Homo sapiens: one gene and its partner. The protein of the gene in region 1 interacts with the protein of each later gene in a pairwise test. Each region holds a gene or a part of one and is shown in the gene's direction. Other genes may lie near its edges.

Evidence for each region. The genes of interacting proteins can lie anywhere in the genome.
Region 2: the proteins of MELTF (region 1) and HPGDS interact in binary tests that used the Homo sapiens proteins (3 or more experiments, as listed by UniProt).

What each region holds. Positions count from the first base shown.
Region 1 is NC_000003.12:197,000,532-197,006,171, reverse strand, and holds the end of MELTF (melanotransferrin isoform 1 preproprotein), read left to right. Parts: intron 1-1,427; exon of another isoform or gene 1,428-1,678; intron 1,679-1,812; exon of another isoform or gene 1,813-1,991; coding exon of another isoform or gene 1,992-2,072; coding exon 2,073-2,271; exon of another isoform or gene 2,272-2,570; intron 2,571-2,720; coding exon 2,721-2,800; 3' UTR 2,801-4,432; downstream 4,433-5,640. UniProt on the Homo sapiens protein: Involved in iron cellular uptake. Seems to be internalized and then recycled back to the cell membrane. Binds a single atom of iron per subunit. Could also bind zinc.
Region 2 is NC_000004.12:94,304,359-94,312,420, reverse strand, and holds part of HPGDS (hematopoietic prostaglandin D synthase), read left to right. Parts: intron 1-3,677; coding exon 3,678-3,787; intron 3,788-8,062. UniProt on the Homo sapiens protein: Bifunctional enzyme which catalyzes both the conversion of PGH2 to PGD2, a prostaglandin involved in smooth muscle contraction/relaxation and a potent inhibitor of platelet aggregation, and the conjugation of glutathione with a wide range of aryl halides and organic isothiocyanates.

The sequences.
Region 1 (5,640 bases):
TCGGCTCACTGCAAGCTCCGCCTCCCGGGTTCACGCCATTCTCCCACCTCAGCCTCCTGAGTAGCTGGGACTACAGGCACCCGCCACCATGCCTGGCTAATTTTTTCTATTTTTTAGTAGAGAAGGGGTTTCACCGTGTTAGCCAGGATGGTCTCGATCTCCTGACCTCGTGATCCGCCCACCTCGGCCTCCCAAAGTGCTGGGATTACAGGCATGAGCCACTGTGCCCGGCCAATCCTGCTCCCTTTCGAAGCAAAACTCCTCCAAAGAGTGGTCTGCTCTGGAGTTAACAAGTCCTCTCCTCTGGCCTCTCTTAAGGATGGAGACTGAGTTAGCAAGTCCTCTCCTCTGGCCCCTCTTAAGGATGGAGACTACCCCAGACAGGCTCCCACCAGGGCCCTGAAGCTGTTCTTGTCAAGGTCACAGTGACCCATGTTGCTAAACCCAGTGGCCATTTCTCAGTCTTCATTTTACTTGACCTCTCAGTGGCACTGGCCACAGCTCTCCCTCCTCCTGGAAACACCTTCCCCTGCAGATGCCCAGGTCCTCAGCCCTGCCTGGCTGTCCTCTCACTCTCTGGCCACTCCTCAGTCTTCTCTGCTGATTTCCTCCCCATCTCCCTGACCTGTTAGCCCTAGGATTCAGTTCTCAGCCCTCTTCCCTGTCTACAGCTTACCCTTGATCTCATCCAATCCCATGTCATCAAATACCATCTATATACAGATGGCTTCTAAATTTACATCTTCAGACATCAGTCCCAAACTTGCATATTTAACTACATACTTGACATTTTGACTTGTGTTTCTAACAGTCATCTCAAATGGATCAAGTCCAAAGTTGGACCCCCGTCCCTCCTTCAGTCTTCCCCACTTCAATTAAGAGCAACTTTAGCTTTTCCATTTCCTCGGGAGTCATTTTTGACTCCGGTCTTCCTCTCGTGCTCTACAGCCAATCTATCAGCAGATCCCATTGGTTGTGCTTTCAAAATATACCTAGAATTTAAACCCAGGTTGTCTCACAATGGAGCCACTGGTTTCTAACCACTCCCCCTCCCCCGACTTATGCTGAAATTGCCTTCTCCACACCCACCAGCACCACAGAACTGCAGAGCTGGCTGGCTCGCCAGGCCTGTTCCTAAACTTTGACATTGTGAACTGACGCATGTTCCTTCCTGTCATCTTCCCCACAGAACCCCTCTATCCCAGGAGTGCTTTACTCTGGGTCCCTGGGCTTCCCTAGGGGGTTGCTAAGTCCTCTGAAGTAATGTGGGAGAAGAATCCTGGGTGGATGTGCATTTTTCTGGGGAGAAGGCTGACAGCTTTCATCAGATCTTCAGGAGGATCTGCGAGTCCCTCCAAAAAGACTGAGAGCCACCTGACTCCTTCGTTCCTCCTTGATCAGTACTTAACACTTTACATAGACATTCATGCATGTTCTCCAGATGTCCTTTATTTATATTCGTATTCATAAGTTCTCATACTACTTCTGGTCTTTTTAGTAGCTCTTTTAGGGCTGTAGCCACAGAACGGTCATTCTAGTGATTCTGAGCAGGGTGGAGAGGAGTGCAGCATCCCTGGGCGGGTGGGTCAGTGAAGACACGCCCAGCTCACCTGATATTCTGTGACTGGTTGCAGAACACAAGTCCCTCTCGAAATTGTTTAGGTTTGTGGGGAGATATCTGTAAGACAGAGTGAGAAAGCCTTATGGAAAAGGCCAAGAAGTGCTCAGCAGGCCTAGCAGAACGCTCAGGAATCCCACCCACACCATCCCTCATTTCTGGGTCTTTCTTCCTGGACATCTCAGGCCTCAGACCTGCATCCAGGAGCTGGAGCACCGCAGTGCTTCTGAACGCCTCTTCCAGTGGCACCTGCGGGCCTAGTGTCCCCACACCCGCTTGGGTGACAGAGGCCAATCAGTTGTCAAGCTTATGACTTCCAATCAGAGTGGTGGGGCCCTGAAATGACTTGCTCTTTGGGTCACTGTATGTAAAGCAATTTGCAGCTAGCGGCACTGGGCGGGTGACCCTGCCTGAGCCCAGTGAGGAGCAGGTCGTCTGCCTGCGGTGCTTCCAGGACCTGTTTGGAGACGACCACAATAAGAACGGGTTCAAAATGTTCGACTCCTCCAACTATCATGGCCAAGACCTGCTTTTCAAGGATGCCACCGTCCGGGCGGTGCCTGTCGGAGAGAAAACCACCTACCGCGGCTGGCTGGGGCTGGACTACGTGGCGGCGCTGGAAGGGATGTCGTCTCAGCAGTGCTCGGGCGCAGGTAGGACAGGCCCGCCCTGCCGCCTCCCCTGGTGCTATTCAGACCCCTTCACCCCAGAACCCTGAGGGAGCGGGGGGCGCTGCGGGTCCGGGGAGGCGGGTGGAGGCCCGTTCGCAGCAGTCCAGGTGGGGTGTCCCGGGAGGATTTTGGCCAGGAGGCTGCGGGCCGGGAGGGCGGGAGCCCGGCGGGTCTCCCAGACGGACCTGGGTAATGAGTGTGAACGCTCAAAACGGCGGCGCGGGGAGGATCTGGGGCCACGGCAGAGACATGCGTGTGCTGCCTTTCTGGAAAGAGCGCATCTGGAAGGGCAGCAGGGGAAAGGAGCACAAAGAGGGAGGCTGCGGCGAGTTCGGTCCCGAAAGATGCCCCCACCCCCACCCCAGAGCGGGCGCCTGAGGCGGCCACCGCGGCCCGGGCTTCGGGGCCTGACCCGCCGCGTTCGTCCCCAGCGGCCCCGGCGCCCGGGGCGCCCCTGCTCCCGCTGCTGCTGCCCGCCCTCGCCGCCCGCCTGCTCCCGCCCGCCCTCTGAGCCCGGCCGCCCCGCCCCAGAGCTCCGATGCCCGCCCGGGGAGTTTCCGCGGCGGCTTCGCGCTGGAATCCAGAAGGAAGCTCGCGAAGGCCGGGCCCGGCGTGGGCGGGAGCAGGCGCCTCCCCGGGAGCCCCGCCGCCCACGGGCGCCACCTGGCGCTGCTACCTGAGGCGCCGCCCCCGGGCCCGCGCGGCCCTTCCCGCCAACCGCCGCCTCCCGCCACCTGGAGCCGCGCGGGCCGCGCCGGAGGAGGCCGGTTGCCCAGGAAACCGCTGAGTCCGGGCTTCCCGCCGCCCGCCCCGCGGTGTCGCCCGAGGGGCCCGCCCGCCTCCTCCCCGCAGCCCCGCGCCCCCGTCCGCGAGGCCCCCTGGGGACGCGGTGGCCGCCGAGGCGCCTACACCCGCAGGCCGCGGCCAGGCCGTCCCAGGAGGCCCCGGCGCCAACGGGACCCGGCGCGTGGGACAGCGGCCTCTGCTGGCGGCGGCGGGAGGGAGGCCGGACCGGGGCGACGGGGAGAAGCCTTCGCCCGCGGGACCGTGTCCGGGGTGGGGGCTCCAGTTCCTCCGACCGCCCGTGCGCTGGGAGGGAGGCCGAGCCCGGGGAACGCCGCGTGCCCTGCCTCGTCCCCCACTGTGGCCGCGCCAGCTCCATCCCGGGCCAGCCGCGTCCACGGGCCCCCTCCCGAGTCTCCTCAGGCTCTCGCCTCCCCTACCCCCGTGGGATGCCCACCGCCCGCACCCACGCCCGAGCCTGGCGGCAGCAGCCGCCCCCCGCCTGAAGGGAGCCGGAGGTGACCCAGGCCGCGGGCTCCCGAGGCCCCTGAAGGGCTGCGCGTGGGGACCCGCCATGCTTCTGGGTTCCGAACGGGGGTGAGCTCCGTCTCCTCACCCGGCCCCGCACCCGCTGGGCCTGGGGACCCCTCACTCCCCGTGCCCGCCCCTCCGCGAGGCAGCAGAAAGCGCCCGGCCGGGGCCTCTCTCTACTCCATCTTGCCACAGTTGTCTGAGAAGCCAGAAAAAGTTTCCAGAACTGGCAGCCCTTAAAAAAAATGAAGAGGAAGAGAAGAAATGGGAGCAGGCAGCCCTCGTCAGCAGACCGGGAGCCGCGTGGGCGCGGAGCCATTTGCATTCCGGTCTGCGGGGGCTCGGGGATGCTGGTGACAGGCCCGGTTCCCGGTGGCTCGCCCCCACCTGCGGGCGTCGGGAAGGATCCCTTCCATCTCTCAGCCGCAGAGGAGGCCCTGGCAGCGCCCCGGCTGTAGCCATGCAACCCCGAGGAGTCCCGGGCACCTTCACCCCACCGGGAGGGGCCACAAGGACCTGGGCCTCGGCCACCAAGCTTTGTCCCCTCTCGCTGTGGGGGGCTAGTGATTCTCCTCCGACCTGACGATTGCTTGGTTTTTTCAAAAGGGAGTTTTGTGCGGTGAGAAGTGTGTTTCTGTGTGGCTAACTCTGGGCTAGCGTGCCGTGGCCATTGAAGGTGTGGCCTGCGTGGGTGCAGTGTAAGTGACGCTGGATTGTCAGGTGGCAGCAGGGGACCCCTGCTGTGTCAGTGCTAATGAAACATGTTGGTTGGTTTCTAAAATAAAGCCAAACAAGCCAGCACATGCAGAGGCTTGGACCCTGATAGAAACTTCTGCTGCCGATTTCTTTCGTTTTGTTAGGCACTCAAAGGCCTACCTGCTCCACCGAGAAGGGCAGATTCCATTCTCCAAGAGCCAGTCAGGGACCACTCTCATCCTCTAGTCAGTGAGGCCCCCCGCGCCCTTCTTCGACCTGGACTGGTTCTCTGGCTCTTGCAGGGCCTCCGCTGCCCTGGCACATTCCAGCTGCCTCCACCCCATCAGGCTCTGGGGTGTCTGCCCTTCTGTGGATGGGTGCAGAGAAGGGTGCAAACTTCTCTGCTGCCCCCTGCCCCACACCTCCAAAATAAGCGGCCCACATCTTTTCTCTGGCAAGCTCGCTGCTAACTCACTGGAGGGGGGCGTGGGGAGCGGATCTCCCAGAGACCCTACAGTGGGTGCTCTGTGGTATCTACTGAGGTGGGGGTGGGCCCGGCTGGTCTTCATCAGTGCTCTGCTCTCCCTCTGGAAGGGGAGGTTTTCTCTGCTTCCCTCTCTCATGGCTTCACTTGGCCCCCACACCACCACCCCTCGCCGCTGTGGCCATCTCCCAGAGCCAGGTCTTGCCCACCACTGCACACAGGCCATTTTCCATGAAGTCGGCTCAGTTATCACAAAGCCAGTCAATTCCTGGGGACCTGGATGGCCAGAGTTGACCGACTTTGTCTCTGCATCACATGGACGAGTCTCAGCTGCACAGTCACTCCAGCTCGCCTCATGCTACCACTTCCCTACCCTGAACTTCTGGAAAGGAAAGTTAACCTTTGGGCACCCTAGCCCCTCATCTGAAAAACACACAGTACGATCACCAGCTTGGTGAGGTGGTTGTGAAGATCCAGTCTAAGATGCAAAACACTCAGCACAGTGCTTGGCACACGGCATAGAGACTAAGACACAAAACACTGCACAGTGCTTGGCACACGGCATAGAGTCTAAGACACAAAACACTCAGCACAGTGCTTGGCACACGGCATAGAGTCTAAGACACAAAACACTCAGCACAGTGCTTGGCACACGGCATAGAGTCTAAGACACAAAACACTCAGCACAGTGCTTGGCACACGGCATAGAGTCTAAGACACAAAACACTCAGCACAGTGCTTGGCACATGGCATAGAGTCTAAGACACAAAACACTCAGCACAGTGCTTGGCACACGGTGGGTGCAGGAAGGATGTTCACTGTCACTACTGCTATTACTCCAGAGCCTGTTTTCTTGT
Region 2 (8,062 bases), on another chromosome or scaffold:
ACCTGCTCCTGAATGACTACTGGGTACATAACGAAATGAAGGCAGAAATAACGATGTTCTTTGAAACCAATGAGAACAAAGACACAACGTACCAGAATCTCTGGGACACATTTAAAGTAGTGTGTAGAGGGAAATTTATAGCACTAAATGCCCACAAGAGAAAGCAGGAAAGATCTAAAATCGACACCCTAACATCACAATTAAAAGAACTAGAAAAGCAAGAGCAAACACATTCAAAAGCTAGCAGAAGGCAAGAAATAACTAAAATCAGAGCAGAACTGAAGGAGATAGAGACACAAAAAACCCTTCAAAAAATCAATGAATCCAGGAGCTTATTTTTTGAAAAGATCAACAAAATTGATAGACTGCTGGCAACACTAATAAAGAAGAAAAGAGAGAAGAATCAAATAGATGCAATAAAAAATGATAAAGGGGATATAACCACAGATCCCACAGAAATACAAACTACCATCAGAGAATACTATAAACACCTCTACACAAATAAACTAGAAAATCTAGAAGAAATGGATACATTCCTCGACACATACACCCTCCCAAGGCTAAACCAGGAAGAAGTTGAATCTCTGAATAGTCCAATAACAGACTCTCAAATTGAGGCAATAATTTATAGCTTACCAACCAAAAAAAGTCCAGGACCAGATGGACTCACAGCTGAATTCTACCAGAGATACAAGGAGGAGCTGGTACCATTCCTTCTGAAACTATTCCAATCAATAGAAAAAGAGGGAATCCTCCCTAACTCATTTTATGAGGCCAGCATCATCCTGATACCAAAGCCTGGCAGAGACACAACAAAAAAAGAGAAGTTTAGACCAATATCCTTGATGAACATCGATTGGAAAATCCTCAATAAAATACTGGCAAACTGAATCCAGCAACACATCAAAAACCTTATCCACCATGATCAAGTGGGCTTCATTCCTGGGATGCAAGGCTGGTTCAACATATGCAAATCAATAAACGTAATCCAGCATATAAACACAACCGATGACAAAAAACCACATGATTATCTCAATAGATGCAGAAAAGGCCTTGGACACAATTCCACAGCCCTTCATGCTAAAAACTCTCAATAAATTAGGTATAGATGGGACGTATCTCAAAATAGTAAGAGCTATCTGTGACAAACCCACAGCCAATATCATACTGAATGGGCAAAAACTGGAAGCATTCCCTTTGAAAACTGGCACAAGACAGGGATGCCCTCTCACACCACTCCTATTCAACACAGTGTTGGAAGTTCTGGCCAGGGCAATCAGGCAAGAGAAGGAAATAAATGTTATTCAATTAGGAAAAGGGGAAGTCAAATTGTCCCCGTTTGCAGATGACATGATTGTATATTTAGAAAACCCCATCATCTCAGCCAAAAATCTCCTTAAGCTGATAAGCAACTTCAGCAAAGTCTCAGGATACAAAATCAATGTGCAAAAATCACAAGTATTCTTATACACCAATAACAGACAAACAGAGAGCCAAATCATGAGTGAACTCCCATTCACAATTGCTTCAAAGAGAATAAAATACCTAGGAATCCAACTTACAAGGGATGTGAAGGACCTCTTTAAGGAGAATTACAAAACACTGCTCAACAAAATAAAAGAGGATACAAACAAATGGAAGAACATTCCATGCTCATGGGTAGGAAGAATCAATGTTGTGAAAATGGCCATACTGCCCAAGGTAATTTATAGATTTAGTGCCGTTCCCATCAAGCTACCAGTGACTTTCTTCACAGAATTGGAAAAAAACTACTTTAAAGTTCATATGGAACCAAAAAAGAGCCTGCATTGCCAAGTCAATCCTAAGCAAAAAGAACAAGGCTGGAAGCATCACGCTACCCGACTTCAAACTATACTACAAGGCTACAGTAACCAAAACAGCATGGTACTGGTACCAAAACAGAGATATAGGCAGACCAGTGGAACAGAACAGAGCCCTCAGAAATAATACCACACATCTACAACCATCTGATCTTTGACAAACCTGACAAAAACAAGAAATGGGGAAAGGATTCCCTATTTAATAAATGGTGCTGGGAAAACTGGCTAGCCATATGGAGAAAGCTGAAACTGGATCCCTTCCTTACACCTTATACAAAAATTCATTCAAGATGGATTAAAGACTTCAATGTTAGACCTAAAACCATAAAAACCCTACAAGAAAACCTAGGCAATACAATTCAGGATATAGGCATGGGCAGGGACTTCATGTCTAAAACACCAAAAGCAATGGCAACAAAAGCCAGAATTGACAAATGGGATCTAATTAAACTAAAGAGCTTCTGCACAGCAAAAGAAACTACCATCAGAGTGAACAGGCAACCTACAGAATGGGAGAAAATTTTTGCAATCTACTCATCTGACAAAGGGCTAATATCCAGAATCTATAAAGAACTCAAACATATTTGCATGAAAAAAGCAAACAACCCCATTAACAAGTGGGCGAAAGATATGAACAGACACTTCTCAAAAGAAGACATTTATGCAGCCAAAAGACACATGAAAAAATGCTCGTCATCACTGGCCATCAGAGAAATGTAAATCAAAACCACAATGAGATACCATCTCACACCAGTTAGAATGGCGATCATTAAAAAGTCAGGAAACAACAGGTGCTGGAGAGGATGTGGAGAAATAGGAACACTTTTACACTGTTGGTGGGACTGTAAACTAGTTCAACCATTGTGGAAGTCAGTGTGGTGATTCCTCAGGGATCTAGAACTAGAAATACCATTTGACCCAGCCATCCCATTAGTGGGTATATACCCAAAGGATTATAAATCATGCTGCTATAAAGACACATGCACACGTATGTTTATTGCAGCACTATTCACAATAGCAAAGACTTGGAACCAAGTCAAATGTCCAACAATGATAGACTGGATTAAGAAAATGTGGCACATATACACCATGGAATACTATGCAGCCATAAAAAATGATGAGTTCATGTCCTTTGTAGGGTCATGGATGAAGCTGGAAACCATCATTCTCAGCAAACTATCTCAAGGACCAAAAACCAAACACTGCATGTTCTCACTCTTCTCTCTCATAGGTGGGAATTGAACCATGAGAACACATGGACACAGGAAGGGGAACATCACACACCGGGGCCTGTTGTGGGGTGGGGGGAGGCGGGAGGGATAGCATTAGGAGATATACCTAATGTAAATGACGAGTTAATGGGTGCAGCACACCAACATGGCACATGTATACATATGTAACAAACCTGAATGTTGTGCACATGTACCTTAGAACTTAAAGTATAATTAAAAAAATAAAAAAATAAATTGTGGCGCATCTACCTCAATGAATCCCTATGTAGCCAAAAAAAAAAAAAAAAAAAAAAAAAAGCAAGTACACCCTTTGGGTACTTGTAAAGAAAGATATGTAGGGGACATGGGATGAGGAAGCATATCTAGTGGGATATATATTTTATTTGCTTGTATTTTCATAAAGAAATAATGTAGAATACTAATTAAAGTGGTACCAGTAAGGTAGGTAGGTAAGGGAGCAAAATGTGGTGGATGGAAGCTAGTCTTCACTGGATATTGTTTTACACTCTTTGAATTTTCAACCATATGAGTATACTATCTGTTAAAAACAAACTTTTTAATATAGTAAATTAAACATATTGATGGGCCTCTCTCTATTCCACAGATTTGGCTGGAAACACAGAAATGGAACAATGTCATGTTGATGCTATTGTGGACACTCTGGATGATTTCATGTCATGTTTTCCTTGGGCAGAGAAAAAGCAAGATGTGAAAGTAATGTGATCCATTTGCTATTCCTAGTATTAATTATATACCACCTGCCAGACATTGTGTTAGGTGCCTTAGAAAGTTCCTTAATATCAAAAGAATATGTATAATTTTAAAATACCAAATTATATTTTAAAAGTTTAAAATAAAGTACAGCAATTCCCTATTGTACCCCTTCACATTAACTCCTCCCCAGATGCAACCCTTTTAAAACTTTGTTTAGCAGTTTCTTTAGGATTTACACATTTCCATATTTCTATAGGATAAATAAATATGACTTCCTCTGATTGACCAATTGTAAATGATTTCTCAGGACTTATGATAGTACAGGTTAAGCATTCCTAACCTGAAAGTCTGAAGTCCAAAATGCCCCAAACTCCAAAACGTTTTAAGTACCAAGATAACAGCACAAGTGGAAAATTCCACATGTAAGTACTTAACACAAACTTTAGCAAATGTGCAAAATTATTGAAAATACTGTATAAAATTACCTTTGGCTATGTGTATAAGGTGTAAATGAAACATAAATGAATTTGGTTTTTAGATTTAGGCCCCATCCCCTATATATCTCATTATGTATATGCAAACATTCCAAAATCTGAAAAAGTCTGGAATTCAACACAATTCTGTTCCCAAGCATGTTGGATAAGGGATCTCAACCTGAAATAACAATTTTTCTCTTACATAGTCATCCTTTCTGCTTCCTTTTCACCAAGCTCCCAATATTGTGATGTGAAAATTTTTTGGTTAATTATCCTGTGATTAGTAGGCTATGCAAATAATGCACAGAACTGTGCACTGTAGTATGCTTTTATATTTTCTTTCTCACTTTTCTTCCTTAAAATTAGTAATTGCTTTCTTTTGCTTCTTTTCACTTTTACTGCTGACTTTCCACAGTATCCAATAGCCTGCCAATACGATTTTCCACAAGGTCAACGTAGTGTCAGTTCATCTGTTATTTCCAATATTTCTTGGAGCGCTCTCTAGGAGACTTCCATTCTTTGTGGAGTTCTCCAGGTTTTCTGCACAGCTGTCATCATTGGAATTCCCTTTGCTGTTATTCCAGTGATGCCATTCTATGGAGCTGGAGTCCTGTTCCTGGATGCTGCCTTCTTTCTTTGTTTACTCCATTGTTTATTTGGGGGCACATCCTCTAGTATTCCAAAAGTTAAAATGAAGGCTTGATGACAGCAGATATGATTATGACAGATGGCATGGATATGTCTATCTTGTGAGTCACACTGCTTCGCTCTGGTATGGTTGTCCTAGATACTTGGTCACAGTTGTCATCCTGAGATCTTTATTATTACCCAGGATTTTTTTTTTTTTTTTATGTTTTCCTGGGTTCATTCTCCTGTTTTCTTTCCTTGCTTTTGTGGAACAGTCCTCTAAGAGCTTACTGGTCATAGGAAATAAAAGTTTGGGGCTTTTGGGGCCTTATTTGTTTAAAGATGTTTTTATTTTATTCTCAAACTTGTTTATAGTTTGACTGGGTGTAGAATTCTGATGAAAGTAGTTTTTCATTAGTATTTGAAAGGCTGTTGAGAAGTTTGAATTCAATGTAATTACTGACCTTTTGTATGTGACCTATTTTTTTTCCACTCTGAAAGATTACAAAACACGTGCCCTTAGAGTTCTAAAATTTTGCAATGGTGAGTCTTGGTATGATCTTGTTTTCATCCATTGTGCTGTTTCCTTGGTGATTCCGTTCAATCTGGGACCCATGTCCTTTAGTTCAAGGACATTTCCTTTAATTCTTTCATTAATGATTTCCTCCCCCTTTATTTTCTTTGTTCCATTATAGTAGAATTCCAGTAATTCAGATGTTGGTTGGCTCTTTTCCTATTTCCCGTCTCTTGGCTTTTCTGCATTACTTTTAGAAAGCATTTCTCATCAGTCCTTGAGTTCTAAATTTCTGATATTGTGCTTCTAAATTTATAAAAATTCTTAGGCTGTTTTCCGCTAAGAATGGGGAAGGGACAGCTGTCTAGTAATGTAAAATGAAGAACATCCCATGCTAAAACCGCTTAATAGTTTTCCACCAATCCTCATTTTATCCCCTCCCAAACCTCCTTAACCCCAGTTCTAGACATATCCGGTCATTTCCTGAGCCATTTAAGGATTTTGTGTTGTTGATAGGATTGGTTCTTGGCTTTCCCTTCACAGGTGCCATTCACCCATCTGCTTACTAGCTTCAAATTTTGTTTGCTCTTATCTCCTCTCTTTCCACTTCCTTGTGGGTTCTATCTTTTTAAAAATATTCATTACTGTGGTTTAGAGATGAATGCAAAATGATATATATTTGTCAAATTATTCATCTTTATGCAGAATTCTAAATAGACGTCTTTATTACAGCTTCTAGTGGTTTCCTTTAGGACGCTCATCACAGTCTCTATTTTAAAGAGACTGGCAGGTGGTGTGTGATTACTTGTTTGTTGTTTGTCTCCTCAAGCTGGATGCATCGTGGGGTAGGAATCATGTCTGTATTATTCAACTGATCCCCCACCGCCATCACAGTGCCTTTTACATAGTAGGCATTACACACTTGTTGAATAAGTGATCAGAACCACACTCATCAAATGCACACCATGTGCCTGTGTTACTCTCAGCTCTATGTGTTATCTCAGTCAGCCCTCCTCCCACTTCAAGATAAGTGCTTTTTATTGTCATGCTCACTTTCCAGATGAAGACACTGAGAAACAGAAGTTACAGAGTTGCCCAAAGTCACACAACTGACAGAACTGTGAACTGAGCCCAGACAGCTGAATTTAGATCCCATAGCCTCATCACCTAGGTATACAATTGCTTAAATTAGTAACTAATTTAAGCATTCCTTTAGAATGAAACTGCTGTTATCCTCATCTTCCAAGTAAGAAAACAAGAGTTTCATGTAGTGTAAACAACTTACCCAAAATTGTTCAGCTAGAAGTGGTGCAGAAGGAATTCAAATCGTCACTGACTCAAACCCCAGGTTCTTAACCACTGGGTATAATACCACAGTGCAAGCAGCTGTTCAAAACAGCTGCGCATGAATATTTATGTACATGTTAAAGCTAAAGCCTATAGTCGAAAGCCACAGCACAAATAGCAGGCAGTCTTATCAATTTACTTAAGCACATATTTAAGCACATACTATCTACTTAGTATTTATTGTAAATACTATTTAATTAGCACCTTCTGATTTGAATAGAGATATCCGGACACAAAAGTATTTACATTGACTAACTCCATGATATAAATGTAAGGTGTGTAGGGTCTGCCCACACACACACGTATATATATAGGCCTAGCCAGGAAATAATGAAGCTCAGCTTTGATGATAGAAATACAACTTTTTGACATAAGTACATTTAGGCTCTGGAGTCAAACTGCCAGGTTGAATCCTGATTCCCTTCTTACTAGCTGTCACTTAACTCCCTATTTATAGTTCAAACTCTTTGTAAAGTGGGAATACAACAGGCTCTACTTTGAAGTATGTTGGCAGGATTAAATGTTAGCATATGTGCCTATGGCTAGGTAGGAAGTGTTAAATATTAACTATTATAATTAATAGTGTTATATACTTTGGTGTTAATTGTTTTTACTATTTGTCAGACATGGCATCTGTATTTTACATATCATTATAAATGTAGAAACAGATGCTCTCCAATTTAGAAGTGTCTAAAGATTTTTGTTCCATGTACCAAACACCCCCCTAATGTGCAGTCTATCAATTTATCAGTTTGCTCTTCTCTACTTTTCTATTTTCTACCTTTCTGTGGCTGAGGCTCCATAACAGAGACCACCTCCCAGAGGAAAATATTCTTCGAACATTTATGATAAGAGTAACACTCTACCTTTGTATTAGAATAACAACTCTCTTACATACCACCAATTCCAAAAAAACAATTTCAAAGGACACAGCAATCCAAGTTCATGATTAAATCATACAAAGGCAGAACACGTTGCAGAAACATTGCTGATAGCTATAGACTATCTAATTAACAAGCAGGACTTGGCTAATATATAATGAAAAATGCACTGTTCTGTATTTCATTTCTTAGACTGTTGGTAGTGGGCTACATTGCTGCCATCTTGTGGTCAGGTGAAAATTTCAAAGGCAGAATATTGATGCACTTAAGATGGATAGTGAATATATTCTTGTCATATACACCTTAAAAATCTACCAAATACACACAATTTTACAGTATTTATTACTAAAAATTCCATTTCCAATAAAAAAAGAATTAAAAGCAAAAGATGCCTTTGGATATTGGTCACCATGACAATCCTTGAACTCAC